Homo sapiens: one gene and its partners. The protein of the gene in region 7 purifies or fractionates together with the protein of the main gene of each other region. This does not show direct contact. Each region holds a gene or a part of one and is shown on either strand. Other genes may lie near its edges. The genes, in order: CMSS1, NCR3LG1, PPP1R12A, MCTS1, PDCD10, DNAJC2 and MILR1.

Evidence for each region.
Region 1: the proteins of MILR1 (region 7) and CMSS1 purify together in Homo sapiens (affinity purification with mass spectrometry; one large-scale study listed by BioGRID and IntAct). This does not show direct contact.
Region 2: the proteins of MILR1 (region 7) and NCR3LG1 purify together in Homo sapiens (co-immunoprecipitation; one large-scale study listed by IntAct). This does not show direct contact.
Region 3: the proteins of MILR1 (region 7) and PPP1R12A purify together in Homo sapiens (affinity purification with mass spectrometry; one large-scale study listed by BioGRID and IntAct). This does not show direct contact.
Region 4: the proteins of MILR1 (region 7) and MCTS1 purify together in Homo sapiens (affinity purification with mass spectrometry; one large-scale study listed by BioGRID and IntAct). This does not show direct contact.
Region 5: the proteins of MILR1 (region 7) and PDCD10 purify together in Homo sapiens (affinity purification with mass spectrometry; one large-scale study listed by BioGRID and IntAct). This does not show direct contact.
Region 6: the proteins of MILR1 (region 7) and DNAJC2 purify together in Homo sapiens (affinity purification with mass spectrometry; one large-scale study listed by BioGRID and IntAct). This does not show direct contact.

What each region holds. Positions count from the first base shown.
Region 1 is NC_000003.12:100,177,306-100,180,227, reverse strand, and holds part of CMSS1 (protein CMSS1), read right to left. Parts: intron 1,924-2,922; coding exon 1,840-1,923; 3' UTR 1-1,839.
Region 2 is NC_000011.10:17,361,270-17,365,506, forward strand, and holds part of NCR3LG1 (natural cytotoxicity triggering receptor 3 ligand 1 precursor), read left to right. Parts: intron 1-4,237. UniProt on the Homo sapiens protein: Triggers NCR3-dependent natural killer cell activation.
Region 3 is NC_000012.12:79,795,463-79,799,699, forward strand, and holds part of PPP1R12A (protein phosphatase 1 regulatory subunit 12A), read right to left. Parts: intron 3,123-4,237; coding exon 3,032-3,122; intron 1,934-3,031; coding exon 1,733-1,933; intron 1,489-1,732; coding exon 1,320-1,488; intron 298-1,319; coding exon 176-297; intron 1-175. UniProt on the Homo sapiens protein: Key regulator of protein phosphatase 1C (PPP1C). Mediates binding to myosin. As part of the PPP1C complex, involved in dephosphorylation of PLK1. Capable of inhibiting HIF1AN-dependent suppression of HIF1A activity.
Region 4 is NC_000023.11:120,606,693-120,610,929, reverse strand, and holds part of MCTS1 (malignant T-cell-amplified sequence 1), read right to left. Parts: intron 2,706-4,237; coding exon 2,572-2,705; intron 1-2,571. UniProt on the Homo sapiens protein: Translation regulator forming a complex with DENR to promote translation reinitiation.
Region 5 is NC_000003.12:167,727,825-167,732,061, forward strand, and holds part of PDCD10 (programmed cell death protein 10), read right to left. Parts: intron 1-4,237. UniProt on the Homo sapiens protein: Promotes cell proliferation. Modulates apoptotic pathways. Increases mitogen-activated protein kinase activity and STK26 activity. Important for cell migration, and for normal structure and assembly of the Golgi complex.
Region 6 is NC_000007.14:103,320,345-103,324,581, forward strand, and holds part of DNAJC2 (dnaJ homolog subfamily C member 2), read right to left. Parts: intron 4,219-4,237; coding exon 4,138-4,218; intron 3,320-4,137; coding exon 3,254-3,319; intron 2,451-3,253; coding exon 2,359-2,450; intron 2,289-2,358; coding exon 2,167-2,288; intron 1,738-2,166; coding exon 1,588-1,737; intron 1-1,587. UniProt on the Homo sapiens protein: Acts both as a chaperone in the cytosol and as a chromatin regulator in the nucleus.
Region 7 is NC_000017.11:64,462,341-64,466,577, reverse strand, and holds part of MILR1 (allergin-1 isoform Allergin-1L precursor), read right to left. Parts: intron 1,127-4,237; coding exon 1,037-1,126; intron 137-1,036; coding exon 80-136; intron 1-79. UniProt on the Homo sapiens protein: Immunoglobulin-like receptor which plays an inhibitory role in degranulation of mast cells. Negatively regulates IgE-mediated mast cell activation and suppresses the type I immediate hypersensitivity reaction.

The DNA of each region.
Region 1 (2,922 bases), on a different chromosome or scaffold from region 7:
CCTCCAGGGCACTTCAGAGACCTTCGTGGCAGCCCTCCCCAGCCCCACCAAACAGGCCCAGAGGCCTAGGAGGAAAAAAATGGTTTCGTGGGCTAGGCCCTGGGCCCAGCTGCTCTGTGCAGCCTTAGGACATGGCAGCCTAATTCCCAGCTGCCCCAGCTCCAGCTGTGACTAAAAGGGGCCAAGGTACAGCTGAACCATTGCTTCAGAGGGTGCAAGCCCCAAGCCTTGGCAGCTTCCACGTGCTGTTGGGCTTATGGGTGTGCAGAAGGCAAGAGCTGAGGTTTGGGAGCCTCTGCCTCAATTTCAGAGGATGTATGGAAACGCCTGGATGTCCAGGCAGAAGTCTGCTACAGGGGTGAAGCCCTCATGGAGAGCCTCTACTAGGGCAGTGCAGAGGGGAAATGTGGGGTTGGAGACCCTACACAGAGTCCCCACTGGGGCACTGCCTAGTGGAGCTGTGAGAAGAGAGCCATCATCCTCCAGACCCCAGAATGGTAGATCCACTGACAGCTTACACTGTGTACCTGGATATGCTGTAGGCACTCAACACCAGCCTGTGAAAGCAACCATGGGGACTGTACCCTGCAGAGCCACAGGGGCAGAGCTGCCTAAGGCCTTGGGAGCCCACTCCTTGCATCAGAGTGGCCTGGATGTGAGACATGGAGTCAAAGATTATTTTGGAGCTTTAAGATTCAAAGAGTGCCCTGCTGGGTTTCAAACTGGCATGAGGCCTTTAGCTCCTTTGGGCCAGTTTCTCCCACTTGGAATGGGAGCATTTACCCAATGCCTGTACCTCCATTGTATCTTGGAAATGACTAACTTGTTTTTTATTTTACAGGCTCATAGGTGGAAGGAAGTTGCCTTGTCTCAGATCAGACTTTGGAGTTGGACTTTTCAGTTAATGCTGGAATGAGTTAAGACTTTGGGGGACTGTTGAGAAGGCATGATTGTGTTTTGAAATGTGAGAAGAACATGAAATTTGGAAGAGGCCGGGGTGGAATTGACATGGTTTGGCTCTGTGTCTCCACCCGAATCTTATGTTGAATTATAATTCCCAATGTTGGGGGAGGGACCTGGTGGAAGGTGACTGGATCATAGGGACAGATTTTCCCCTTGCTGTTCTGCTGTTCTCATGATAGGGAGTGAGTTCTCACAAGATCTAGTCGTTTAAAAGTGTGTGGCATTTCTCCCTTCACTCTCTTGCTCTCTTGTCGCCATGTGAAGATGTGCTTGCTTCCCCTTCACCTTCTGCCAAGTTTCCTGAGGCCTCTCAGCCATGCCTCCTGTACAGCCTGTGAAACTGTGAGTCAATTAAACCTCTTTTCTTTATAATCTACCCAGTCTCGGGTAGTTCTTTATAGCAATGTGAGAATGGATTAATATACCTGCCACCCTTTTTGCTGGGACCATGCCTCAGAGTTTACAAATCTGCTCCCCATGTACTATCTCCTGGAATCCTCAACAATGCTGTGAGACATTCCCACTTTGAGTTGATAAGATGGGGCTCAGAGAGGCAAGACCTTACGCTTGCCTAAGGTCACCCAGCTGCTCTTTCCTTTCTCCTGCACAGTTACATCAGAAGCCAGTTGGTGACAGAAAAACACGGTCCGCTCAACAAGGATCATACACAAGCCGGTGATACTTTATTATATAAGAGAGTTGTCAAAAGGACAGTTTCATTTCTGTTTCAGAATCCCCACATTCCAGTGATCCATCTGTTGACACAATTAACATAAACTATTTGCTGATATTTACTGAGTGCTTGCAATGTATCAGAGTCATTAAATAAGATGCAACTTCTACTGTGAAAACTGGAATCTTCATTAGGACACAGACTTAGAAAAGGCCCAGTTTCAAGGATTCTGACTTGCACAGACTGAGCACTCCCATTTCCAGAAGTTCGAATACCTCCTTTCTTATCTAAATGAGAGAAAAGGGGGGAAAAAAAGATTAAGATCAAGCCAAAATGGTCTTGGTGAATACATTCAACCATCAGGACTCCCTGATATTTACCCAGCTGTTATGGCCAGAATCAGAGAGTGCAAAAGTCCTAACACACATTTGATTCAGAGTTGAAATTTTTAAAATTATTATTATTATTATTTTGAGACAGAGTCCCATTCTGTTGCCCATGCTGGAGTGCAGTGGCGTGATCTCGGCTAACTGCTATCTCTGCTTCCCAGGTTCAAGTGATTCTCATGCTTCAGCCTTCTGAGTAGCTAGGATTAGAGGTGTGTGCCATGATACCTGGCTAATTTTTGTATTTTTAGTAGAGACAGGGTTTTGCCATGTTGGCCAGTCTGGTCTTGAACTCTTGGCCTCAAGTGATCCACCTGCCTTGGCCTCTCAAAGTGCTGGGATTACTGGTGTGAGTCACTGTGCCTGGCCTATTATTATTATTGTTTTGTAGAGACAGGGTCTTGCTTTGTTGTCCAGGCGGGTCTCGAACTCCTGGCTTCAAGTAATCCTCCCACCTTGGCCTCCCAAAGCACTAGGATTACAGGTGTGCACTGCCATGCCTGGCAGAATTAAAATATTTATATAAATGAAGGAGGAGGTACTATATAAAACATTAGTTTCATTAAAGTGCCCTTTTGTTTGCAGCCATTCAAAATAAAATGCTATACAAAGGTGTTTCAAGGACTCCACAGTGTGCTTTCTGTAAACAAGATTATATACAATAGTTCAGTATAGGATTTTATTGCCTTAGGATAACTGCTGAGAATGACAGCAACAGAATAAAAATAACTATGGGTGACAAGATGTTTTTGGACATTTCTCATTATTAGAATTAGAAACTTAGTAGATTAGTCAAATTTAATATTATAACTGAAATAATCAACTATGGCCTCATGCCTGATATCAAATTTGTTAAACCAGTTTTAAGAAACCAGTCAAGTCAGGGGACAAAATGCACGA
Region 2 (4,237 bases), on a different chromosome or scaffold from region 7:
CAAGTTGGGAAAAATTGACATTTTTTTTTTTTTTTTGAGACAGAGTCTCGCTGTGTTGCCCAGGCTGGAGTGCAGTGGTACAATCTCAGCTCATTGCAACCTCTGCCTCCTGGGTTCAAGCAATTCTCCTACCTCAGCCTCCCGAGTAGCTGGGATTACGGGCATGCGCCACCACGCCTGGCTAATTTTTGTATTTTTAGTAGAGACGGGTCACCAAGTTGGCCAGGCTGGTCTCAAACACCTGACCTCAAATGATCCACCAGCTTCGGCCTCCCAAAGTGCTGGGATTACAGATGTGAGCCACCACACCTGGCCAATGGTATTATATTTTTAATTTCAAATTCCAGTTGCTCAATTGTTCATTCCTGTCAAATAATTGATTTTTGCTTATTAACTTTGTATCCTGCAACTTGCTTTAATCACTTATTCATTCTAGGGATTTTTTTGTTTTTGTTTTTGTTTTTGTTTTTGGCCAAGTCTTGAGATTTTTCTACATAAATCAGGCTGTCTGTTAAAAATACAGTTTTATTTCTTCCATTATTTTATTTTATTTTTTACAGAGGTGAGGTCTCACTATGTTGCCCAGGCTGGTTTTGAACTCCTGAGCTCAAGTGATCCCCCTGCCTTGGCCTCCCAAAGTGCTGGGATTACATTGTGTGAGCCACTGTACCAGGCCTCATATTTCTTCCATTCTAACTTTATACCTTTTATTTCCTTTTCTTGTCCTGTTATGCTAGCTTAGACTTCCATTACAATGTTGCACAGGAGTGGTTAGAAGGGACATCTTGTCCATTTCTGATTTTACTTTCTAACCATGAAATATGATATTAGCTATTTTTTGGTAGATATTCTTTAGCAAGTTGAGGAAGTTTCCCTTTTATTCCTAGTTTGCTAAGAGTTTTTCATATGAATCAGTCTTGGGTTTTGTCAAATACTTTTTCTGCATTATTGGTATGATCATATAATTTTTTCTTTAGCCTGTTGATATGATGACTTACATTAACCAATTTTTGAATGATAAGCCAGCCTTGCATATGTGTAATATGCCTCTCTTGGTTATGGTATGTAATTTTTTCTGTATTGTTGGATTATATTTGCTAATATTTTCTTGAGGATTTTGTATCTACTTTAATGAGTGATATTGATCTGTAGTTATCTTTTCTGGTAATGTCTTTATGCGGTTTTGGCAGTAGGATAATATTGGGCTTGTAGAATAAGTTAGAATGTGTTCCCTCTGTCTACTTCTACTTTCTGGAAGAAATTGTAAAAAACTGGCATTATTTATTCCTTAAATGTTTAGTAGGATTAACCAGTGAAACCATCCGAACCTGGTGCTTTCCTTTTTGGAAGGTGATTTTTTTCTTCTTCTTTTTTTTTTTTTTTACTAGTTATTGACTCAGTGTCTCCTTCCTTCCTTCCTTCCTTTCTTTCTTTCTTTCTTTCTTTCTTTCTTTCTTTCTTTCTTTCTTTCTTTCTTTCTTTCTTTCTTTCTTTCTTTCCTTCCTTCCTTCTTTCCTTCTTTCTCTCTCTTTCTTTCTTTCTTTCTTTCTTCCTTTCTTCCTTTCTTCATTTCTTCATTTCCTTCCTTTCTTTCTCCCCTCCCCTCCCCTCCGCTCCCCTCCCCTCCCCTCCCTTCCCTTCCCTTCCCTTCCCTTCTCTTCCCTTTCTTCCTGCAACGTCTTGCTTTGCTGTCCAGGCTGGAGTGCAGTGGTGCGATCATGGCTCCCTGCAGCCTTGACCTCCTGGGCACTAGCGATACTCCCACCTCGGCCTCTGGAATAGCTGGGACCACAGGCATGCACCACCATGCCCTGCTAATTTAATTTTTTTTTTTTTTTTAAGAGATGGAGTCTATGTTGCCCAGACTCGTCTTGAACTCCCTCGGCTCAAGTGATCCTCCCACCTTGGTCTCCCAAAGTGCTGGGATTACAGGCATGAGCCACCATGCCTGGCCCACTAAAGCACTTCTTTTTATGTTTCTCGCACAGCAGGTCTATTGGTGAAAGGTTTGTCTGAGAAAGTCTTTATTTATACTTCACCTTTGAAGGAAAATTTTTCTGGATATAAGATTCCATGTTGGTGTTTTTCTCTTTTTTAAGTTTCAATGCTTTAAATATTTCACTTCACTCTCTCCTTGCTTGCATTGTTTCTGACAAGAAGTCCAGTGTTGTTCTTGTTCTTCTATATGTAAGGTGTGTTTTTTTTCCTGTGACTTTTTTCTGTCTTTCTTTTCCCTCCCTCCCTCCCTCCCTCCCTCCCTCCCTCCCTCCCTCCCTTCCTTCCTTCCTTCCTTCCTTCCTCTTTCTCTCTTTTCTTTTCTTTTCTTTCTTTCTTCTTTTGAGATGGGGTCCCACTCTGTTTCCCAGGTTGGAGTGCAGTGGTATGATCACGGCTCATTGCAGCTTCACCCTAGTGGGCTCAAGCCCAAGTGATCCTCCCACCTCCGCCTTCCAAGTAGCTGGGGCCACACGCGGGTGCCACTAAGCATGGCTAATTTTTGTATTTTTTGTAGAGATGGTGTTTCATTATGTTGCCCAGGCTGGCCTCGAACTCCTGAGCTCAAGTGATCCACCTGCCTTGGTCTCTGAAAGTGCTGGGATTATAGGAGTGAGCTACCATGCTTGGCCATCTTTGTCTTTCTAAAGTTGAAATATGATATGGCTAGACGTGGATAGGCATATTTGGATATTTATCATGCCTGGTATTCTCTAAGCTTCCTGGGTCTTTAGTTTGGTGTCTATCATTAATTTTGGAAAATTCTCAGCCATTATTTATTCAAATTATTTCTTCTGCTCCTTTCTCTTTTCTTCTTCTTGTATTCCCATTATATATCTGTTACACCTTTTGCAGTATCCCACAGTTCTTGGCTATTCTGGGGTTTTTTTTAAATTCTTTTTTCTCCTTGTATTTCAGTTTGGGAAGTTTCTTTTTTAAAAATTGTTTGTGATAGGGTCTTGCTCTGTATCCCAGGCTGGAGTGCAATGGCGGGATCTTGGCTCAATGCAACCTCTGCTTCCCAGGTTCAAGCAATTCTTGTGCCTCAGTCTCCTGAGTAGCTGGGACTACAGGTGTGCACAACCATGCTGGCTAATTTTTGTTTTTTAAGTAGAGACGGGGTTTTGCCATGTTGGACAGGGTGGTCGCCAACTCCTGACCTCAAGCAATCTGCCCACCTTGGCCTCCCAAAGTGCTTGGATTATAGGTGTGAGCCACCACACCGTGCCCAGTTTGGGAAGTTTCTATTAACATCTTCAAGCTCACTGATTCTTTCCTTGTCAGTTTCTTTTTTTTTTTGAGACGGAGTTTTGCTCTTGTTGCCCAGTCTGGAGTGCAGTGGCGTGATCTCAGGTCACTGCAACCTCCGCCTCCTGGGTTCAAGTGATTATCCTGCCTCAGCCTCCCAAGTAGCTGGGATTACAGGCATGCGCCACCACCCCTGGCTAATTTTGTATTTTTAGTAGAAATGGGGTTTCTCCATATTGGTCAGGCTGGTCTCGAACTCCTGACCTCAGGTGATCCACCCACCTCGGCCTCCCAAAGTGCTGGGATTATAGGTATGAGCCATTGCGTTCAGCCTCCTTGTCAGTTTCAAGTCTACTGTTGAACCCACTGAAGGCATTCTTCATTTCTTTAATGGTGTTTTGAGCTCTAGCATTCACTTTTGGTTCGTTCTTAGCATTTCCATCACTCTGCTTATATTATCCATCTGTTTGTGCATGTTATCTGCTCTTTCTGTTAGTGCTCTTAACATTTTAATTATAGTTTTTTAAAATTCCCTATATGATAATTCTAAAATCTGTGTCATACCTGAGTCTGGGTCTGATGTTTGCTTTGTTTTTATGTATTTTTTAGCCTTGTAATTTTTTAGTTGAAAGAGAGATATTATGTATCAGGTAATAGGCTTTTATTATGCGGCCTTATGTTAATTTGGCTAGGAGCTGGGTTGTGTTTAATGCTTATTGTAGCTATAGGTGCCAGAGACTTCAGTTTCTCTAGTGTTTTTTTCTCTCCTTTCCTATTGTCTTTGGGTTTCCTTATGAACTCCTTAAATAGGTTCTGTGCCTTGTAGCTCTCTCACTTATAATCTTCTGTTATTATACTGGAGCCCTGTTGATGTGGTAGTAAAGTGTTGGAGGAGAATCTGTTTATACTTTTATGATTAAATCTTATTCTTTTAGTGGCCTGAGCCTCTGGACTGTGGCCTTCAGAAGTGTTTCTTAGCCTTTTCTCTTTCTCT
Region 3 (4,237 bases), on a different chromosome or scaffold from region 7:
AAGTAGTTAACTATCCTTAAAAATAATTTTTCTTATTTAACAACTCAGAAAACACAGTGATGATTTAAGGAATATGAAATCTAAGGCATATAAGAAATTATTAGTATGTATTTTTGGACACATTAAGAATACTATCAAGAATACTATCAAATAATGTATTTTAATAGGTTCTCACATCTTGTGTCCAAAATGAAACTCCTGTAGATCTTCTTTTCTCTCTTGGTCGTCGTCGTTCTCTGATTGATTTAGGTTGTGATTTATCTTCTCCTTCTTTCTCCTCTTCTCTTTTTTCTCCCTCTGTTAAGGATTGCAATGAACCACAATATAGCAATATATCTTGACAATATTTTGCAAGGTAATTGTAAAAACAATGGGTAAAATGGGCCAGGGGACTATCTAGGGGGATGGAAGGTAGGCAGCTGCTACTACTTAGCTCCAGCCAATTGTTGGTATGTGAGAATTCAGATCCAGTGTTGCCAGGTCAGCCAACTTTTCAAGAAATGGCAAAAATCTGAAGTTTGAAGTGAGTATCTCTAATTTTAAATGTTGGTTCAACATTTTTACAAACACAATGCAGGCCTCACACATAGAAGTTTAAAGAACTGAAACATCTCAATGATCAACATGAGAAAATATATAGCTGGAAATTGGGAAAAAACTTTATTTTCTGCTGTTTATTCTACATTACTACTGATATTATCATGACTAATACTGTAAGATTTAGGCTTTAAAATATGAAATGCCTATATTTAGTACTTATATCTGATTTAAAGTAGGAATTACTCAGAATTTAAATAGAAAGTTTATATAAAATAATAGGAAATGGTAATGAGTATCAATATGCCAATATATAGTTGAGAAAGAAATGTATTTTTTAAGAAATAAGCATAAAAATGTGTTTTAGTGAGAGCATTACATGTAGTTAGTAATTTTAGTTTACAACAATTTCACAAAAAAACATTTAAATGATATGATCTACACAGTAGGCAAGAAATAGCTTAAAGCATCTGAGAAGTACTACACTAGTAAACTGCTTCTAGAAATAGTCACCCACCAGTTCGATATTAACTTTTCGTTGTAGGTGGACATGAAGATTTTTGTGAAGTATTAGGTTATAAAAATATTAGTATCAACAGCAGGCCATATTCTATTTCTGTTTTCTACTTTTCTCATTCTCAACCTTCATATTCTTTCTGTTTAGGTTCGATGAATCACAAGTTAGGATGCTGTTCCTTTACTGTTGAATTATTATTTAGGAAACCCTAATCCAAAGGATTATATGAAGAAAGCAAAGTGTTTTCAAAATTTGGTATTCTTACCTCTTTCATTTTCTTTTGTTATTCCTCTGGAGTAAGCAGAAGTTATGCCTACAAGACTATTTGGCCTGTTTAGTTGACTTGAAGCATACAGTGAACTGCTCATAGTAGAAAGTGAAGAGGATGGAGTGGTTGAACTTGAAGTTGATACTGGCCTATAACGCTGGTAAGTCTGTGAAACATTAAGATCAAAACCCATTTGAAACATTAAACACAATTAAAAACATAAAAATACTTAAAAATTCATTTCAAAGAAAAAGTAGTATACTAATCACGCCAAAGTAATTCAAATTTCCAGCTAAAATCCTTTACAGTATTTTGCATATGGTTTGTTGGTATATAAATCTCTTGTATGTTAAGGATCATAAGGACTATTCATACCATTTGACTTAAATGTGCTTTTGATATACTGTTACCTCATCATACGTTCTGGAGTACTTTTGTTTATATTCATCTTCTCTAGATGTTTCTGACTCCTTCTTTTCTTCTTGTTTCTCTTTATCTTGTTTCTCTTTTTCCTCTTTTTCTTTTTCTTCATTTTCTTGTTCTCTGGTTCGGGTAGAACGACTTCTTCCTATTGTTTTCTCAGCTTCTTGAAGATCAGTTAATGTCACTCCCTGCACACACAAAAAGATCAATATAATTATGAGATGCATTAAAGCTTGTTTCAAGGAATATTTTAGAAATAGATATATTACATACAAATGCATTAAAAGTCAAATATGCATGTTTAAAATTGGTTTGCAAATGGAAACAGCAAGTTACATTCATTCTATGAAGAATCACCATTAGCAAGCACAACGATAGGTACTGGATACTCTATGCATATAAATGTTCCCCACAAGTTCAAACTAGAGAAGAATAGCCAGTATCTGTACTGTTTGTATATTATAAATATTTATGTTTATATATATGTCTGTGTGTGTGTATATATATGTGTGTATATGTATCTATATACACATGCATGATGATTGTTAAGGCTTAAAAGAGATTTCGATAAATTTTTCAAGATTTGACCTTGAAGAACAGGTTAGATTTCAAGAAGTGAAAAGTATAAAGACAGAAAAAGTATATTAAGGCCCTAGCAAATAGTTCAGCTTGAAAGCTAAGTAATGGTAAGGATAGACAGCTGAATCTGGACTGTGGAGCTTCTTAACTGTGGGAAAGCAGAAAGACACAAAAGTATACATCATATACAGCATAATCAGAATGGCAAAACGGAGGTAAGGAGATCGCCAGCCTGAATGACATTTTCTTCATACTTGCATATTAGTTGTTTATACCTAATATACGAGCCTATTCTCTGCCCCCGATTTCCAAATATTCATAGAACTTTTAAATACTTATTAGACATCATATGATTAATTTATTCTAACCAAATACTCTGGGCCAGACACTGTATTAGGAATAAGGATTTAAAAAATACTCAAAAAGACACAAAGGCATATGCTAATTAGATGAAATACAATAGTAGCAGTGTAACCATACAAAAGGCTATGAGCAACCTTTACCTTTTAAGGATTTATTCACACTAGAATTACTAGAATAACTACAGCAACCTTTACCTTTTAAGGATTTACTCACACTATATACTGACATCAATATTTTCACAACAAAGTGAAAAAGAGAAAGGTAACTTGTTTTATGTCAGTGTGTGTATATATATTTTATATGCTACTTATGTAAGTTTTATATATTAATTACATTAACTATACCTGTGTTGATCTTCTAGATTGTCTTGCTTGTCTAGATCTTGCTTTTCTTTGGGATTCAGACTCTTCATCCCTAACAGGAGTGAGGTATGATCTACAGTAGTAAATTGAAAAATCGTTAGTTGTAAATACAATACCTGTGAATGTAAATATCTATCAATGCATATGAATAAAACATACAGGTTTAATATCTTAGTAAGTTTTAAGGAAAAGTCTTCAGAAAATGGTCTTTGAAATTCAATAATGCAATCTTATAATTTCTTTTTAGATTGGAACTAGTTATATTTTAATAATTATATTTTAACATCACATTTTAACTTCCTAACTACATTTTTTAAAATAATGTAATTTAATTTTAAGATGGAACCACATTTTTAAAAAGGATTTAGAGAACTGAAGATTAAAAATTTTAGCTCTATTGAAAAAAATAGAAGGATTTCATTTAGCCCAATTAAGCAGAATGGATAAGGAGTAAATTTTTTGTCTGTTTTTAACTGAGGAAGGTCCTCTTCTCCAGCCCTGAAAACATCCCCCAAAAGTGATAATCTAAGCATCTTACTTAATGACCTACTAAAAGGGGTTTTAAATTATTCTCTACCTACAGTATTTTCAAATATTGGAAGACAGGTATCAAATTCCTTTCTAAATCTTTTTTTTGTTTGTTTTGTTTTTTTTTGAGACAAAGTCTCGCTCTGTCGCCCAGGCTGGAGTGCAGTGGCGCGATCTCAGCTCACTGTAACCTCTGCCTCCCGGGTTCAAGTGATTCTCTCACCTCAGCCTCCTGAGTAGCTGGGACTACCTGCACATACCACCACGCCCGACTAATTTTTTTATTTTTAGTGGAGATGGGGTTTCATCCATGTTGGCCAGGCTGGTCTCGAACTCCTGACCTCAAGTGATCTGCCTGTCTCGACCTCAGAGGGTGTTGGGATTAAAGGCGTGGGCCACCGCGCCCGGTCTCCCTGCATTCTTGTCAGTGTGCTCTTACTAATGACACGTCAGACAACATATTATTGTTCATACTTTTGAGTGCTCTAAAAAATTCCAGTGTTTTTTTATATATAAACAGCTTTTAAATCAGCATGTTACTTCTAAGTAACTGATTTTCTGATATAAAGAACAGGACTTGGCATTTATCCTCACTAAATTTCTTCTTATAAATTTAAGCCTATGTTTCCTCTTGTCACGGGGTATGCACCTTTTCAATAG
Region 4 (4,237 bases), on a different chromosome or scaffold from region 7:
ATGTTACTAGTTAAGCCACTTGGAACCCCTCTTGTGTCTTCTCCTAGACCATTAACTCCTTGAGAGCAGAGACCTAGCAGAGTCTGTGGGTACACTGTAAATACTCAGTAAATGCTAAATGAATAAATCTAATAACCCCTTTTCTTTCAAGTCAAATGTTAATACTATAACCCCATGCTAACAAAACCAGAATAAGTCACACAAAAAAGGAGTAAAATTTCTTGCACATAAATACTAAAAACTGTGAAATCAATAAATATTAATTGTTCTGATTAATTATTCTGATCACTGACTAGTGGGGATTTTTGTTTGTTCTTGAGACAGAGTCTCACTCTGTTGCCCAGGCTGGAGTGCAATGGCGCAGTCTTGGCTCATTGCAACCTCTGCCTCCCGGGTTCAAGCAATTCTCCTGCCTCAGCCTCCCGAGTAGCTGGTGCTACAGGCGTGTGCCACCACACCCAGCTAATTTTTGTATTTTTAGTAGAGATGGGATTTCACCATGTTGGCCAGGCTGGTCTTGAACTCCTGACCTCATGATCCGCCTGCCTCAGCCTCCCAAAGTGGTGGCATTATAGGCGTGAGCCACCATAGCCGGCCGTTTGTTTTTTTGAGATGGAGTCTTGCTTTGTCACCCGGCTGGAGTGCAGTGGCATGATCTCAGCTCACTGCAACTTCTGCCTCCTGAGTTCAAGCAATTCTCCTGCCTCAACCTCCCTAGTAGATGGGATTACAGGCGCATGCCACCCCACCCAGCTAATTTTTGTATTTTTAGTACAGACAGGGTTTCGTCATGTTGGCCAGGCTTGTCTCGAACTCCTGACCTCAGGTGATCTGCCCGCCTCAGCCTCCTAAAGTGCTGGGATTACAGGCATGAGCCACCACACCCGGCCTGAATGGTGGTTTTATGTAAAGGCTGTTTTAAAATAATAGGTAAATTCCCAGTCTATCTTTAAGAGCCTGATATAACAGTTTCAACCTTTCTAGAAAAACCAGAGTGGTCTTGGTTAACATATGAAGTTTCTGGAATGTTAAACACTGCAGTACATATTTTAAAAAGTCAAGATTCAGGGTACACAAGACCTCTCTGTACCATTTTCTTTAACAACTTTCTCTAAATCTGTAACTGTTTCAAAATAAAAATTATTTTTAAAAGTAAAGACTAGGTACTAAGGAAATTTTCCATTTAAGGTTAACTCCAGAACTATAAATTTACCAACACTTAATAAATATTAAAAACAAACAACAACAACAAAAAACCCGTCCTCACTTTTCTCCCTTGATTTTCAATTCACTCAGTGTTCCAAATATGTGAGCACCTATTAGGCAAAAAGCATGTCAACATAAGCTGTTCCTAGAATATAAACATACTACTTATACTACCTCTTCGCTATAACTGCCCCAACAGAGAATATCATTTTTTTTTCTTATTCTTCTTAAACACACCCCTGGCCAGGTGTGGTGGCTCACACCTGTAATCCCAGCACTTTGGGAGGCCAAAGCGGGTGGATCACCTGAGGTCAGGAGTTTGAGACTAGCCTGACCAACATGGTGAAACCCTGTCTCTACTAAAAATACAAAAATGAGCCGGGCGTGGTAGTGGGTGCCTGTAACCTCAGCTACTCGAGGGGCTGAGGCAGGAGAATTGCTTGAACCCAGGAGGCAGATGTTGCAGTGAGACAAGATCGTGCCACTGCACTCCAGCTTGGACGACAGAGCGAGACTCCATCTCAAAAACTAAAATAAGATAAACACACTCTAAAAGTAGTTTCCCTATTCCCACCAAGTACCATTCCTTTTCTATACCCGAGGCAAATGGCTACTTTAGCTATGATAAAGGAGAAGATGTTCTCCTGTCCAGAATAGTCACAAAAATCTATTTAATCCAGAAAATAGCTGAAACAGCATGGTAGAAATGGAAATAATGCAGAATTATTCAGCTATGTCATGAGTTGAATCGATCTTTAAGGACCATCTGGGACTCTGACATTTCTCTTTGAGAAAACGTGCTCTGAGGCCCCCAAACTCAACTTTTCAAATAATTAATTTTCAAAATAAAAGTTGGAGGTTGCCAATATTTCCCACTATTCACTCCTAACACAAAATTGTTGCTTGGTAAGAGATACCTATACCTGGTGCCTAAATTCTTTTCCCTTTTGAGAGCTTTCACTCCAACGTATGTCAGTAAGTCAAAATGAACATTACAGTGGCAAGTTGATATCCAAAAAGCTGATCCAATTATATCATCTATATCCTTTCCCCTAGTAATCAAGAATTCCCTATTGTGTCCTAAGTCTGATAACAGTAGGCCCTGACTGGGCTGAAATGCAGCTGAGACTCTTCTGTAACTTGTTCTCATTTAACTTCTAAGAAACGACCTAAGATGAGATAATTTAGTAGCAACAAATAAAATTACTTTGTACAACTTCAAATGTAACCAGAAAGGCATGAGATAAGAGTAACAGTAACCTTCAAAAAAGTACATCTAATGTTCTCTTGGATGGTACACCTTTCGCAGTAATGATAAGAGCACAATGAATACATTTTTCAGCAGTTTTAGCCTGGGAAGGATACAACAATGGTATCTACTGCAGCAGGGTAAAGCTTAGCTCCAGGAGAAGTTAAGCCTGGACACATGATATTTGCTCCACTGAGTACAAATTTGATGGCTCCTTTATCAACCTGCTGGTGTGGCAGGATAAAAGGATCTGTAAGAAAAGATATACAATATATTAATAATAAGACTAATGACTCAACAGAAAAAGGCAAAGGATCTGAACAGTATTTCCCCAAATTAATCTGACAGATACAAAAGAAAACTCTGAAACACTATCATTTGTTTACCAAATTGGTAATCTTTTTTGTTTGTTTTTTTGAGACAGGGTCTTGCTCTGCCACCCAGGCTGGAGTACAGTGGAGCAATCAATACCTCACAATAACCTTGAACTCTTGGACTCATGCAATCTTCCCGCCTCAGCATCCCAAGTATTCTCCAAAAACCGTAATTTCAAAACTATGGTTTTTGGAGACTACTTAATATGCCCTGGGAAATTTTTGTGATATAATGTTAAGTGAAAAACGCAGAGTAAAAAAACGATTAAAAAGATCAGTGGTTACCTGGGGTTGGGGAAGTGGGGGGAGGAAGGATGAATAGGTGGAGCACAAAGGATGTTAGGCCAGTAAAACCATTCTGTATGATACTTTAACAGTAGATACTTGACATGTATTTGGGAAAAACCATAAAACTGTAGAATACAAAGAGTAAACCCTAATGTAAACTAAGGACTTGCGTTAATAATAATGTATCAATGCTGGTTCAATTGTTACAAATGTATCATTCCAAAACAAGATGTTATTCATAGGGGAATCTGAACTGGGGAGAGGGAACTCTATTCTTTCTGCTTACTTTTTCTGGAAACCTAAAACTGCTCTAAAAAATAAAAGCCTGTTAATTTAAAAAAAAACTACAAGGGGATGAGGAGAAGTTGGTTAAGGGGTATAAAAATACAGGTCGATAAGTTCTAGTATTCGAGAGTACAATAAGGAAATTATATTTAACAATGATTTACTCTATATTTCAAAATAGCTAGAAGAATTGTAATCTTCTCAACACAAAGATAAACGTTTGAGGTGACAGATACCCTAATTACCCTGATTTGATCATTACACGCTGTATAAAGGTATCAAATATCACATGTACCCCTAAAATATGTACAACTATTATAAATATATATAGGTGGTGGGGGATACAGGCACCACAACAGCAGACAATGTACAGCTATGACGTATCAATTTTTAAAAACTATGTAACAGAGAGCCCAATTTTAAAAAAAAATGCATTTACACACATCACAGGAAATACCTGGACGGAAGGACACTTAGTCAATGCTTTCCCATATATAGACTTTTCTCTATTAGGCAAATAGATACAAATATAAAAGATGAAAATGCTCACAATGCTTATCACAGTTTGTAAATACATATTTGCGTAATTATCTAATTGTTGTTTATTCTCCAAACTAGACTATTAGTTTCTTAAGGACAGAGACAATGTCTTTGCTTCCCATTGTATTCTCAGCACCTAGCTGAATGCCTAGCACATAGTAAGTTCAATAAATATTTGTCTTTTTTTTTTTTTTTTTTTTTTTGAGACTAAGTCTCGCTCTTGTTCCCCAGGCTAGAGTGCAATGGCGTGATCTCTGCTCACTGCAACCTCCGCCTCGCGGGTTGAAGTGATTCT
Region 5 (4,237 bases), on a different chromosome or scaffold from region 7:
TCATTACTTTACACAATTTCTTTGCACCAAAAACACTGCCACAGGGCACTCAAATGTTGACAGAAACTATTAGCCCCAGACAATAAATAGCCTCTGCCTTATTTAACATTAGGTGCTAATGAGGCCAAGGTTCTATCTTGATGATGACATTTAACTTTACCTTTAGCTCCCAATTGATCTCAAATACAAATACTATTTCTTACAAGAAGAAATTAGGGCTAGGATAGTATCTGTTTTTACTGCATCTACTGTTCCTCCTGTAACCTTCACTTCGCAAAAGTGTGATTTATTTTTTAAGGGAGCATACCAAAAATAAGGTAGAACCTTGGAAATCTCTCAAATTTTGACAGTACTGCATAAATACCGATTTTAATATGGATAAAGACATAGAGAAAGATGTGCAGTTCTCAATAAAAAAAAAAAAAGGATTCCAAATGCTTTGGAATTAAATGAAAAAAAGCCTAGCAACAATCTAAACTCGTATAGGGTGCAGTTGCTGTCTAGAGGCCAGGTCTGACTCATTTAACATTCCCAACTGGCTTCTGTTGTAGTAACCTTATATAAGTCTGAGGAGGCAGCCGGTGTGTAACATCTTAGGGTTTTGTCATTCCATAACTTCAATCTCAGTTGAATTCCAGTCTATCTTGAAGTAAGAGAGAATGACTGAATAAGACAGGGAGACCCATTTCAGTGCCAGGGACCAGATGGCAGTTAGAGAAACAATCATTTATTTTTCTATCAGCTCTAACCTAAAATTGTAAAATGAACTGATGCACATGGAAGTACTTAGTATATTAGAAAGACTAAATGTCCATACAATGGTCTTTCAACCCTTTCCCCTTGTATCTACTGAAGTATAAACTCCCTAAAGAGAAGTTGTATCCATTTCTCTATTTCCTAGTATCCAACACAGTATTCTGCATAGTCAGTCTAAGTCAGCAACAGTGTTAGTTGGAGATATGGTGATGAAAAGTCAAACAGCACATACCCTTGAAGGTATGTAGTCTTGGCAGGGAAGAGAGACAGTAAAGAAATACAGTGACATGTCACACTGCCACTTGGCATTAACACTCCAGGGAGCGTACCTGCTTCACATGATACTCCTACCCTATGCAAGTTCAACAGACATGGTGAACATTTGTTTGAAGAAAACAAACAAAAAAATAACTTCACTAAAAATAACTACTGCAGTATGTGATAATTCCATTCCCTATGCAAAAGTCCCAGAATGAGACAGATAAGAAACGTGGATCTGCCACTCCCCACACCAGACTGAGAGCCACAGTGAGCTCTCACAAAGAGTAGCTTGCCACACTGATTGTGACTCTTGTATTATAATATACATATTTCTTTTTTCAATATGGTCTCTGCATAACAAGTCAAACACTTCACCTGGTACTCAAAAGAAATCTACTCCAATGCTAGAAAAAAACTGGCTGTGTTGAAGTTGTTAGTCTACAACGTGTATTTCCTAATAGGTTTTTTAAAAAGTTTGAATATTAAGTAATTTCTGCCTGCCACACTGACCTTAGCATTTAAGACATAACTGCTCTGTAACTACAACTCTTAATGCTAATTTCTCTCTCCAATGCAGTTCAATCACTAACATCATTTTTACTATAATGATGAAAAACATGGTCTCTTGAGTCAGCCAGCCTGGATTCAAATCCTAATTCCAAGCAATTTTTCCTGCAACCGTAGGCAAGTTCCTTAACCTCTCTGTACTTTAGTTTCCTCATTTAAAAACTGGAGATAATAGTGCCTCTACCTCGAAGGGTTGTCGTAAGGATTATAAGAGATCCTGTAAAATGCTTATTAGCATGAGACTTGGCACTTAGTTACTTAATACTCAATAAATGCTAGCTATTATATTAGGTTCCAGTTCATTCCAAAGAAGGTTTAAGGCAATTTCACAAGTAATATGCATTCAATAAGTAAATGAATCAAAAAGTCATTATTTAGACTAACCTCTGGTAAACTTATTCCCAAGGGACCAGCCTAAGTATATGTTAGTGACTACCACTTAACATGTTCCACTGCTGTTACCCAATAGTTCATAAGCTTGTTAATAAAATTCTTTTCTTTTTCTTTTAACCCTATAGGCAACCTGGATTCTATCAACTGTATAAGAATGAAACTGAACAGCAGAAAATCACTTTTGGGTGATTTTAAAAATGGTTATACATAACCAAAAATGTAAGGGTGAGCTTGAAAAATAAGTGTAATATAATACACTTAAGACACATTTAAATTTTGTAGCTTAAATGACAAAATTGAAATTACCATCTTCATACAGACAAAAATGAACCATCAAACCACAGTGTTTATCTTTCAGCACATAAATTATTTCTAATTGCTATAATAAATGTGCTTTCATTTTTTGCATTGTGTGTGTGTGTGTGTCCCTAAAGCATAACCCTCTAACACTGCAGCTTACTATAATATTTCAAATGCAATAACATAGATAACAATGACATTTAACTTCTAAATCACTTTTACAGTTTATATTATGGAAAAAATTACTTATCATGTAAGTGGCTTAAAATTCTTAGTAACACCTATCATAATGATATTAATTATCCAACAACATATAAAAAGCAGTATTTCAGTTTTATCCTCCACATACTGGTTATGCTAGGTAAATATGAAAATTTTATCCAAGATTCAAGTAACATCAACACTGACTTTTTAAAAAGTAAGTTTAGGATTTAGCAAAGACTTGTTTTTAATAATAAAATGGATAGTATTACCAAATTTTAAAGCCAAATTATCAGCAATCTCTTTTTGACAAGATCTTGTGGAAGAGTAAACTGGTAAATCCATGAAGGCATACAAGGCTACAGAAACTCAGGGCTGTTGACCTTACTCTATGCCATACCGTGGTACTACAAATGACTGCAGAACTTGTTTCCAAGACCAAAACCTAACACAATTTATCCCTAAAATTCAGTTTGTATGTTTTAAAAATAATCTTTTTATGCTTAAGTCTCCAGCTATAAAGCAAATAAGATTAGAAAAGTATTAGAAAAATTTTCAGGAAACCCAAAATATAAGTTCCTTTGAAACAAAAACTACTCAATTTTACAAAGCCACCTTGTCTAAATCAAGTGATATTAAAGGTATAATTCATAGGAAGATAGCAAGGTTAAAAAGCAAGAAACAAAACAAAAAAGCAAAGAAAAAGAAAAAATTATGGATTCTAGAATACGGAGATAGATCCAGATTCTAACCATGGTTCCAGTACCAACGTTCTGGAAACTCTAGCAATTTAATTAAACTTTTTTTAGTTTAATAAGTAAATTTACTTATTTTCTTGATGTCTTCAGCTATAAAACAGTATTAATACTACTACCTAGAGGAAATAAAGGTTTTTAGGGCAAAACGAGACAACATTAGGGAAGAAGAGTCCATTAGAAGTTTCTTCCATGTCTATATTTTGTTATAATGAATATCGCTTGCAAAAAGCAGGACAGTGATAAGTCTCTAAAATGCTGTGTTACACAGCAATTCTGCGGCAAATGAAAGTGATTCCTTTATCATTTCCACTTAGAAAATTAATCCTGATTTCAGAGACCTCCAAAAAGAACAAACATTTTTCCACAATTTATATTAAAATTCTGTCAATGACTCCTTTACATATAACCTAAATTGCCTAAGCATTATGGCTCATTTGAAAGTTCTTATATACTTCAATCCAGAAAGCATATCCGCTTTATTCATTTCTCTATTTCTGTCCCCAGAGAAGTGCTGGAAGCACTGTGCATGAATACACTCCTTCATTCATTCAGCAAATATTTACTGAACCCTTACAATGTGCCAGGTACTGCGTAAGTAGTGGGGTAAAACATGACAAATGAGAGGGCCCTGCTCAGGGAGCTTATAGTCCAGTGAGGAGACAGTATTTGTCAAATAAATACAGAAATAATTAAGTTTCTATTATGATGATGCCACAAAGGAGTACAGAGTATGGTGAATACATGGCGGAAACCTATTCTGATTTTGGGAAGGCGGGCAAGGCTCCCCTGACGAACGATATTTAAATTGAGACGTGAAAACTGACTACCAGGTGGCCACATTTAGGTAGGCGTGAGGGGAACAGTCCAAGGAGTGAGACGGAATATGTAAAGGCCACCAAGTCAGGAAGCAGCTTATGTATGTAGTAACTGAAAGGCATGGTAAATGAGAAAGGCTGGAGATAAGGACGGAGAGCTGGATAGGAGAAGAGATAAATTTTTAG
Region 6 (4,237 bases), on a different chromosome or scaffold from region 7:
CCCAAAGTGCTGGTTACAGGTGTGAGCCACCGCGCCCGGCTGTTTTTAACTTTTTCTAAATTTCAGGTGTACATATTTCAGTTTTCAACCCTGATAGTTTTTTTCTAAACATAATCATCTTACCATTATCAAACCAAAAAACAAGTTAATATTCTAAAACTGTCCCAGCACTTTGGGAGGCCGAGGCAGGCGGATCGTGAGGTCAGGAGATCGAGACCATCCTGGCTAACACAGTGAAACCCCGTCTCTACTAAAAATCCAAAAAATTAGCCGGGCGTGGTCCCAGCTACTCGGGAGGCTGAGGCAGGAGCATGGCGTGAACCCAGGAGGCGGAGCTTGCAGTGAGCGGAGATTGCGCCACTGTACTCCAGCCTGGGCGACAGAGCAAGACTCTGTCACAAAATATATATATATACACATATATATATATATATATATATTCTGAAACTGTGTCTATATTCATATCTTCAGTTATCTCAGCATGTCTTTTTTTTTTTTTTTTTTTTGAGATGGAGACTCTGTCTTGTTTAGTTACATTTGCATAGTAAAGAAAAGAAATACATTTATGCTTGGCCAGGTGCAGTGGCTCATGCCTATAATCCTAGCACTTTGGGAGTCCAAGGCAGGGGGATCACTTGAGGCCAGGAGTTTGAGACCAGCCTGGCCAACATGGTGAAACCCCGTCTCTACTAAAAATACAAAAATTAGCTGGGTGTGGTGGTATGCACCTGTAATCCCAGCTACTTGGGTGGCCAAGGCATGAGAATGGCTTGAACTTGGGAGGTGAAGGTTGCAGTGAGCCGAGATGGCGCCACTGCACTCCAGCCTGAGTGACTGAGACCCTGCCTCAACAACAACAATAACAAAAACTTAATTAGAAAAAGTTTTTTTGGCTGGGCACAGGTGGCTCATGCCTGTAATCCCAACACTTTGGAAGGCTGAGATGGGTGGATCATGAGGTCAGGAGTTCAAGACCAGCCTGGCCAACACAGTGAAACTCTGTCTCAACTAAAAATACAAAAAATTAGCCAGGCGTGGTGGCAGGCACCTGTAATCCCATCTACTCAGGAGGCTGAGGCAGGAGAGTTGCTTGAACCCAGGAGGCGGGGGTTGCAGTGAGCCAAAATCGTGCCATTGCACTCCAGACCAGGTGACAGTGCGAGACTCCATCTCAAATAAATAAATAAATAAAAATAATTTTTTTTTTTCAAGAAATATTTTGGCTGGGTGCAGTGGCTCATGCCTGTAGTCCCAGCACTTTGGGAGGCCAAGGCGGGGAGATCACTTGAGGTCAGGAGTACAAGACCAGCTTTGCCAACATGGCGAAACCCTGTCTCTACTAAAAATACAAAAAATTAGCCAGGCGTGGTGGCACACGCCTGTAATCCCAGCTACTCGGGAGGCTGAGGCAGGAGAATCGCTCGAACCCGGAGGCGGAAATTGCGGTGAACTGAGATCGCGCCACTGCACTCCAGCCTGGGCGACAGAGCGAGACCCCATCTAAAAAACAAACAAACAAAAAGAAGTATTTTTGCTTAATAAGCAACTTGATTTACTTGTGCCTAGTGTTTGTTCAGTCTGATATACCTTGCATGAGTTTCGAAGTTTTTGCCTTTCCTTCTTAATGGCTTTTTTCTGGATATCTTTTTCCTTCTTTGCCAGCAATGCTTGCTGTCTGACTTCCTCCTCTTCTTTCTCCTTAGCTAACCGAGCAGCTTCTAATTCAGCTTGTCTTTGCTTTAAAAAAAGGGAGTAAAATCATTTTAATAGGTACAGTAAAATTCCTAAATGTTTTATAATTTTAAAAATTTAAACTTTTAATAAATTATATTAGGAAAAAAGGCAACATAAACTTATTGAAAACTGAAGGATGAACTCGGAAAGACAGCTGGTAAAGATCTATAAACATTTATTAGAAAATGTAAAATTGACATATTAGAAATAAGCATAATATTAAAGGAACTTATGACACAATTTTTTGCTCAATAAAAACGTGCTGGTAAGGAAGATCTCTCAATTATACCAACTGGTCATGATTCATTCACAGTAGCACCCAATTCTCTGCTTTCGAATTATAGTTTTTTTTAAAAAAAGATGTGAAGATTAAAGTGAAGATTAAAGATTTCATAAACATTTAAAGTCCACCTTCATTAAATGTTGTCTTACTTTTTCTTTAGCTTCTTGCTCCTTCCGTTTAGCTTCTGCTTTTGCTTTCTTTTCTGCTTCTTTCTTGGCTTTTTCTTCTTCCTTGAACTTTTTTATCCTTGGATCACAGCTGTATGCATTGTCTAGCAAAAGAAAAAGTTAATCTCATTTTGAATTTCTAACATTTAGGGGACTTAAATCAATTCTACTTACCAACTAATGTTCTTATTCTGTTCATTTCTTCTTTTTTTCTTTGTGCTCTTGTTGCTCTGTTCTGCTTTTCAATCCATCTCCTCTCATCACGACTATAAAATAGAAAATATTGGAAACAAACTACTGCTTATAGATGCTATGACTGGAAAATGCAATATTTTATAAAATATTTATATGTACATAACATCCTAGAGGTTAAAATGCTGTGTCATTACTAACATTAAACAATGATTTTTTTTTTTTTGAGACAGACTTTTGCTCTTGTCGCCCAGGCTGGAGTGCAATGGCGTGATTTTGGCTCATTGCAACCTCTGCCTCCCAGGTTCAAGTGAGTCTCCTGCCTCAGCCTCCGGAGTAGCTGGAATTACAGGTGCCTGTCACCATGCCTGGCTACTTTTTCTATTTTTAGTAGAGACAGGGTTTCGCCATGTTGGCCAGGCTGGTCTCGCACTCCTGACCTCAGGTGATCTGCCCGCCTCAGCCTCCCAAAGTGCTAGGATTACAGGAATGAGCCAGCACGCCCGGCCTAAACAGTGGTTCTATTTAATATTAATTTTGGTTATTTTTTGCACATTCATGTCAAAAGCATTTCTGCACACATACAAAAAAAAAATTAATAAAACCTAGGTTAAGCAACCAGAAGAAAAAGATTTTGCTGAACTGAGCTATCTGACATTATATTCCTTGGCAATTTCTTAAGCATATCCTAACCAATTATTGATCTGGGCCCACCTAGTTTAACTTGTGAGAAAGGATTTCAAAATATTAAAAAATTGTTTAAAAAAGATGTACAAAGAGAAAATATGAAAGAAAATTTACGTGACAATTTTTACATCATCACAAATACCAGAGAACCAAATAAATACCTTCCATTATTAATGATTTGCATACATACCATTCTGCTTTTTCTTTTTCTTCTTCATCTAAATAAGAAAATTCTCTCCAAGAATCAAAATTATACCTAATATAGACAGAAATAATACATGATCAAGACAGAATAAATGAAAAAAAATTCTTTTTAATGCAAGTGAATGAATTTGTTTTAATGGATACCTTTCCTTCCCTTCTAGTATTGAACTAAGGTCAAGTCTTTCTCCTTTTTTAAGGACATTGCATTTGGTATGAAAATCTAAAATGCACATATCACTCCATAATCAAAACCACACCGCCCTGCTATCTCTTCTTTGTTAGGTTTTTCGCTTGACCAAGACCTATTTTTAAGTTTTCCTTGCCTTCAATTTCGCTAGTCTGTCAAGTCTGAAGGTAACCCTAGTAGTGGTTATCTCATCTCCAGTTTGTATCCTCTGAAGGTAAAAGCAATTACAACTGATAGAACTAAATCTTGTTATTTTTGTTCTATGTGATTTTATGTTTTTGTATTTACTAGACATTTGATGAGAAAATGTAGCACATATAAAATGGCCACTAACTATTGCGCATATTAAAAATTAGTGAATTAGTTACAGAGACAAATAGCACTGTCTCCTTCCTCATGAACTCAAGTACTTTTAGTAGGAAGTAACTAAATAAAAATGTACTTATTTTTATTCAAATGACTCCCCAATTTTCATTTTTTACTACTATCATGTGCTTGATATCTAGAAATCTCATTAATAGAAAATCTTAAAAGTGTAAATATCACATAGGTAACAGAGTGCTTTTGTTCAGTGAAGGTTCTGCAATTTGTCCATCTGAATTAATTTATAAACAATCAAGTACTTATTGAATACTTTTCCTTTTAAAAAATGACAGCATCATACAAACAGTATATTCACTTACCAGAAAGAATAAAATATATCTACATCTTCAAATGATGAATTCATATCACCAAGTTTAGGAACATTTTTTTTATTTGACCATCTGAAATATCAAAGGAAAT
Region 7 (4,237 bases):
GAATAGGAATTATTGGGCCAATTATGTGAATTTCTAAGCGCATGAGGGCAGTGGAATAGACTCTGCAGAACATGCTCACCATCTTGGGCTGTGGAAACACACGGCCTGGATCCCACTTCTGGCACAGATTCCTCCTCTGTAAAATGAGAATGACATAAATTGGGGGTTGGTGGCGTTTGTGTTAGAAAAGGTCGGTAAATTGCTCAGCAATGCGTCTGGAATGTGGCCATGTAGGCTGGGACTGTTCCATTGTCAGCTGATGATAGGGTTTGACTGTGTCCTCACCCAAATCACATCTTGAATTGTAGTCCCCATAATCCCCACATCTCATGGGAGGGACCAGGTGGAGATAATTAAATCATGGGGGTGGTTTCTGTCATACTCTTCTAGTGACAGTGAGTTAGTTCTCACAAGATCTGATGGTTTTATAAGGGGTTTCCCCCTTCCCTTGGCTCTCATTCTTCTCTCTCCTACCGCCTTGGGAAGAAGGATGTGTTTGCTTCCCCTTCCACCATGATTGTAAGTCTCCCGAGGCCTCCCAAGCCCTGCGGAACTGTGGGTCAATTAAACCTCTTTCCTTTATAAACTACCCCATCTCAGGTATGTCCTTATAGTAGCATGAGAATGGACTAATACATCAGCCGAGGCGCTGGGTCTTGTTTACTGCAAAGCAATATGCAATGCCTGCTTTGAGAGGTGACCGTGAAAGACTGTGAAACACAGTGTGGATCATTCTGAACAGATGTGAAAAATCTCCAAGATACGTTGTTACATGAAAAAAAAACAAAATCATGGTGTAGAAAGTCATACCTACAATATGCTACAATCACTACCATTTGTTTATTATACACACAGAATATCTGTGGAAGGATTTAAAAAACTGGTTATTACCCCTAGAAAGTGGGACTGGGCATCAATAGACATTGAACTCTATCCCTTTTGCTCCACCCCCCACTCCCGTATGTCTGTACAACCTTAACAAAATAAAAAGACAAAAACCTGAAACCACCCAAAACACGCAACAAAGTTCTCTTACTTGCTTGTTTTTCAAGGATATTTGCATAGATTCCAACTTCCATGGCTGTGTCTCCACGGTCCCTGGGCACATTATTTCTCATAGCTTTTCCTACGTAAATAGGTAGGAATCATCAAATTAAACCAATTCAGCCACATTTTTCTCATCTCCTCGGCCAAGGAGCAGAATTCCCTCAAAGTTCTGAAACAGAGAGTGACTTGCTCCAATGGCCCAAACTGTTGTCTAACAAAGGAAAACTATAGACTCAACAGGGAGTCTAGACACCGCTCCTCCAAGCCAGGGGCTGTTCTGATTTATTTTCCTGGCCTTCAGAGGAACATGCTTTGCCTATCAGATTATGCCTGAACTAGCCAGACTTATTTTCTTTCCTTCGCTGAAGAGAATAGTCTGTGGAAGCTTTGTAATATCTTCAAGAGAGTGTAAATGGCCTATTGAATTCTTTTTTTTTAAGATGGAGTCTCGCTCTGTCGCCTGGGCTGGAGTGCAGTGGCACTATCGTGATCTCGGCTCACCGCAACCTCCGCATCCTGGTTTCAAGCGATTTTCCTGCCTCAGCCTCCCGAGTAGCTGGGATTACAGTTGTGCACCACCATGCCCAGCTAATTTTTGTATTTTTTTGAGACGGAGTCTTGCTCTGTTGCCCAGGCTGGAGTGCCATGGTGCAATCTCCGCTCACCGCAACCTCCGCATCCTGGTTTCAAGCGATTCTCCTGCCTCAGCCTCCTGAATAGCTGGGATTACAGGCATGTGCCACAATGCCTGGCTAATTTTTTGTATTTTTAGTAGAGGCGGGGCTTCACCATGTTAGCCAGGCTGGTCTCAAACTCCAGACTTCAGGTGATCAAAGTGCTGGGACTACAGGCATGAGCCACTGTGCCCGGCCAGCCTCACTGAATTCTATTGTAGCTCCAGCCAGTAATCAAAAATATTAATGCCACTTTTGCAAGAACCTGGACTTTTTATAAGAAGGAGAAACATGTTTTTAAGACATATGAGATGTGGGCCAGGGTGCAGTGGCTCACGCCTGTAATCCCAGTGCTTTGGGAAGCTGAGGTGGGAGGATCACTTGAAGCCAGGAATTCAAGACCACCCTGGGGAACATAGTGAGACCTTGTCTCTAAAAAGAATTTTGTAATTAAAAAAAAAACAAAAAACTGTAATCCCAGCACTTTGGGAGGCTGAGGCAGGAGGATGGTTTGAGTCCAGGAGTTCAAGACTAGCCTGGGAAACATGGTGAAACCTACAAAAAAAAAAAAAATTAGCCAGGCATGGTGGTGCGCGCCTGTGGTCCCAACTACTCAGGTAGCTGAGGCAGGAGGAGGCCTGGGAGGTCAAGGCTGCAGTGAGCCATGATTGCACCACCGCACTCCAGCCTTGGGTGATGGAAGTGAGATCCTGTCTCAAAAAAAAAAAAAAAAAAAAAAATGTCAGGCGCGGTGGCTCACCAGCCCCAGCACTTTGGGAGGCCGCGGTGGGCGGATCACGAGGTCAGAAGTTCAAGACCAGCCTGGCCAACATAGTGAAACCCCATCTCTACTAAAAATACAAAAATTAGCCTAGCGTGGTGGTGGGCGCCTGTAATCCCAGCTACTCAGGATGCTGAGGCAGGAGAAACGCTTGAACCTGGGAGGCAGAGGTTGCAGTGAGCGGAGATTGTGCCACTGCACTCCAGCCTGGGCAACAGAGCGAGACTCTGCCTCAAAAAAAAAAAAAAAAAAAAAAAATTAGCCAGGAGTTGTGGTGCATACCTGTATTCCCAGCTACTAGGGAGGCTAAGGTGGGAGGTTACAGTGAGCTATGGTGGCACCACTGCACTCCAGCCTGGGCAACACAGTGAAGCCCCATCTCTAAAAAAAAGAAATGAAATAAAATAAAATCTTAAAGATGCATCAGATGTATAACTTGTGACCTCTGTGTTCAAGTTTTATGTCAACTGAGTCCCTGACTTCTCTGAGTTGTGACTCTCTGGAGATGGTTCTCAATTGGTTCTCTTGCCAGTTCTGACAATATCTCCATGGCCCATTCCACAACTCAGAACACTGAGGCTCAGAAGCAACAGCCTGAGGGGCTTGTCCAACAGCCCTCAGCTTGCTGATGGGGGCCAGTGCTGAGACCCAAACTGTCTTTTGTGTAAATCTTCATATCCTTCTGCACTCGTGTACCAAATGAAAAAACCACTTTGAAGGCTTAACCAGTGGTGGCCATAAGACGTGAGGAATGAAAAGCAGTAACTGGGCTGAGTGCAGTGGCTCATGCCTGTAATCCCAGCACTTTGGGAGGCTGAGGTGGGAGGATCGCCTGAGTCCAGGAGTTCAAGACCAGCCTAGGCAACACAGTGAGACCCCGTCTCTAAAAAACATTTTTTTAAAAAAGCTGTAACTGAGGCTTCTAATAACATTGACAAGTTTTCTGCTGGATGTAGCACTTAAGGTGGGGAAGAGAGAAATGATGCTTTTTTGTTTCTGTTTTTGTTTTTTTGAGTCTGGTGTGTTTAATAAAGTTTTTTAAAAAATCTTATAGTAGAATAGATTATACTTCTACATTGAAAATCTAGAAAGCATAGAAATGTAGAAATAAAAAATATGTATATATTAGGTTGGTGCAAAAGTAACTGTGGGCCGGGCGTAATGGCTCACATCTGTAATCCCAGCACTTTGGGAGGCTGAGGCGAGCAGATCACCTGAGGTCAGGAGTTCAAGACCAACCTGACCAACATGGTGAAACCCTGTCTTTACTAAAAATACATGGTGGTGGGTGCCTGTAATCCCAGCTACTCAGGAGGCTGAGGCAGGAGAATCGCTTGAACCAGGGAGACAGAGGCTGCTGTGAGCCGAGATTGCACCACTGCACTCCAGCCTGGGCAACAGAGCGAGACTCCATTTCAAAAAAAAAAAAAAAGTAATTGTGGGTTTTGCCATAAAAGTATGGCAAAAATTGCAATTACTTATGCACCAACCTAATATTTTCAATACTTCCAGCCCCAAACAATTGTAAACCTTTTGAAGGTGTCTTTTGTGCTAATGGGATGACGCTTGTTTGTCCTCATGCACTGAACCTCCCCTACGTATGTGGCAGATCTAGAGTCACTCAAGGCAAAGCTCTCGCTTGAGGCACTTGCAGTCAGGAGCAGCCGCACCACTTGCAGCGCCCAGTGCGAAATGAACACTGTTCACAGGCCTTAAACTTGTGTTTAATTAAGAA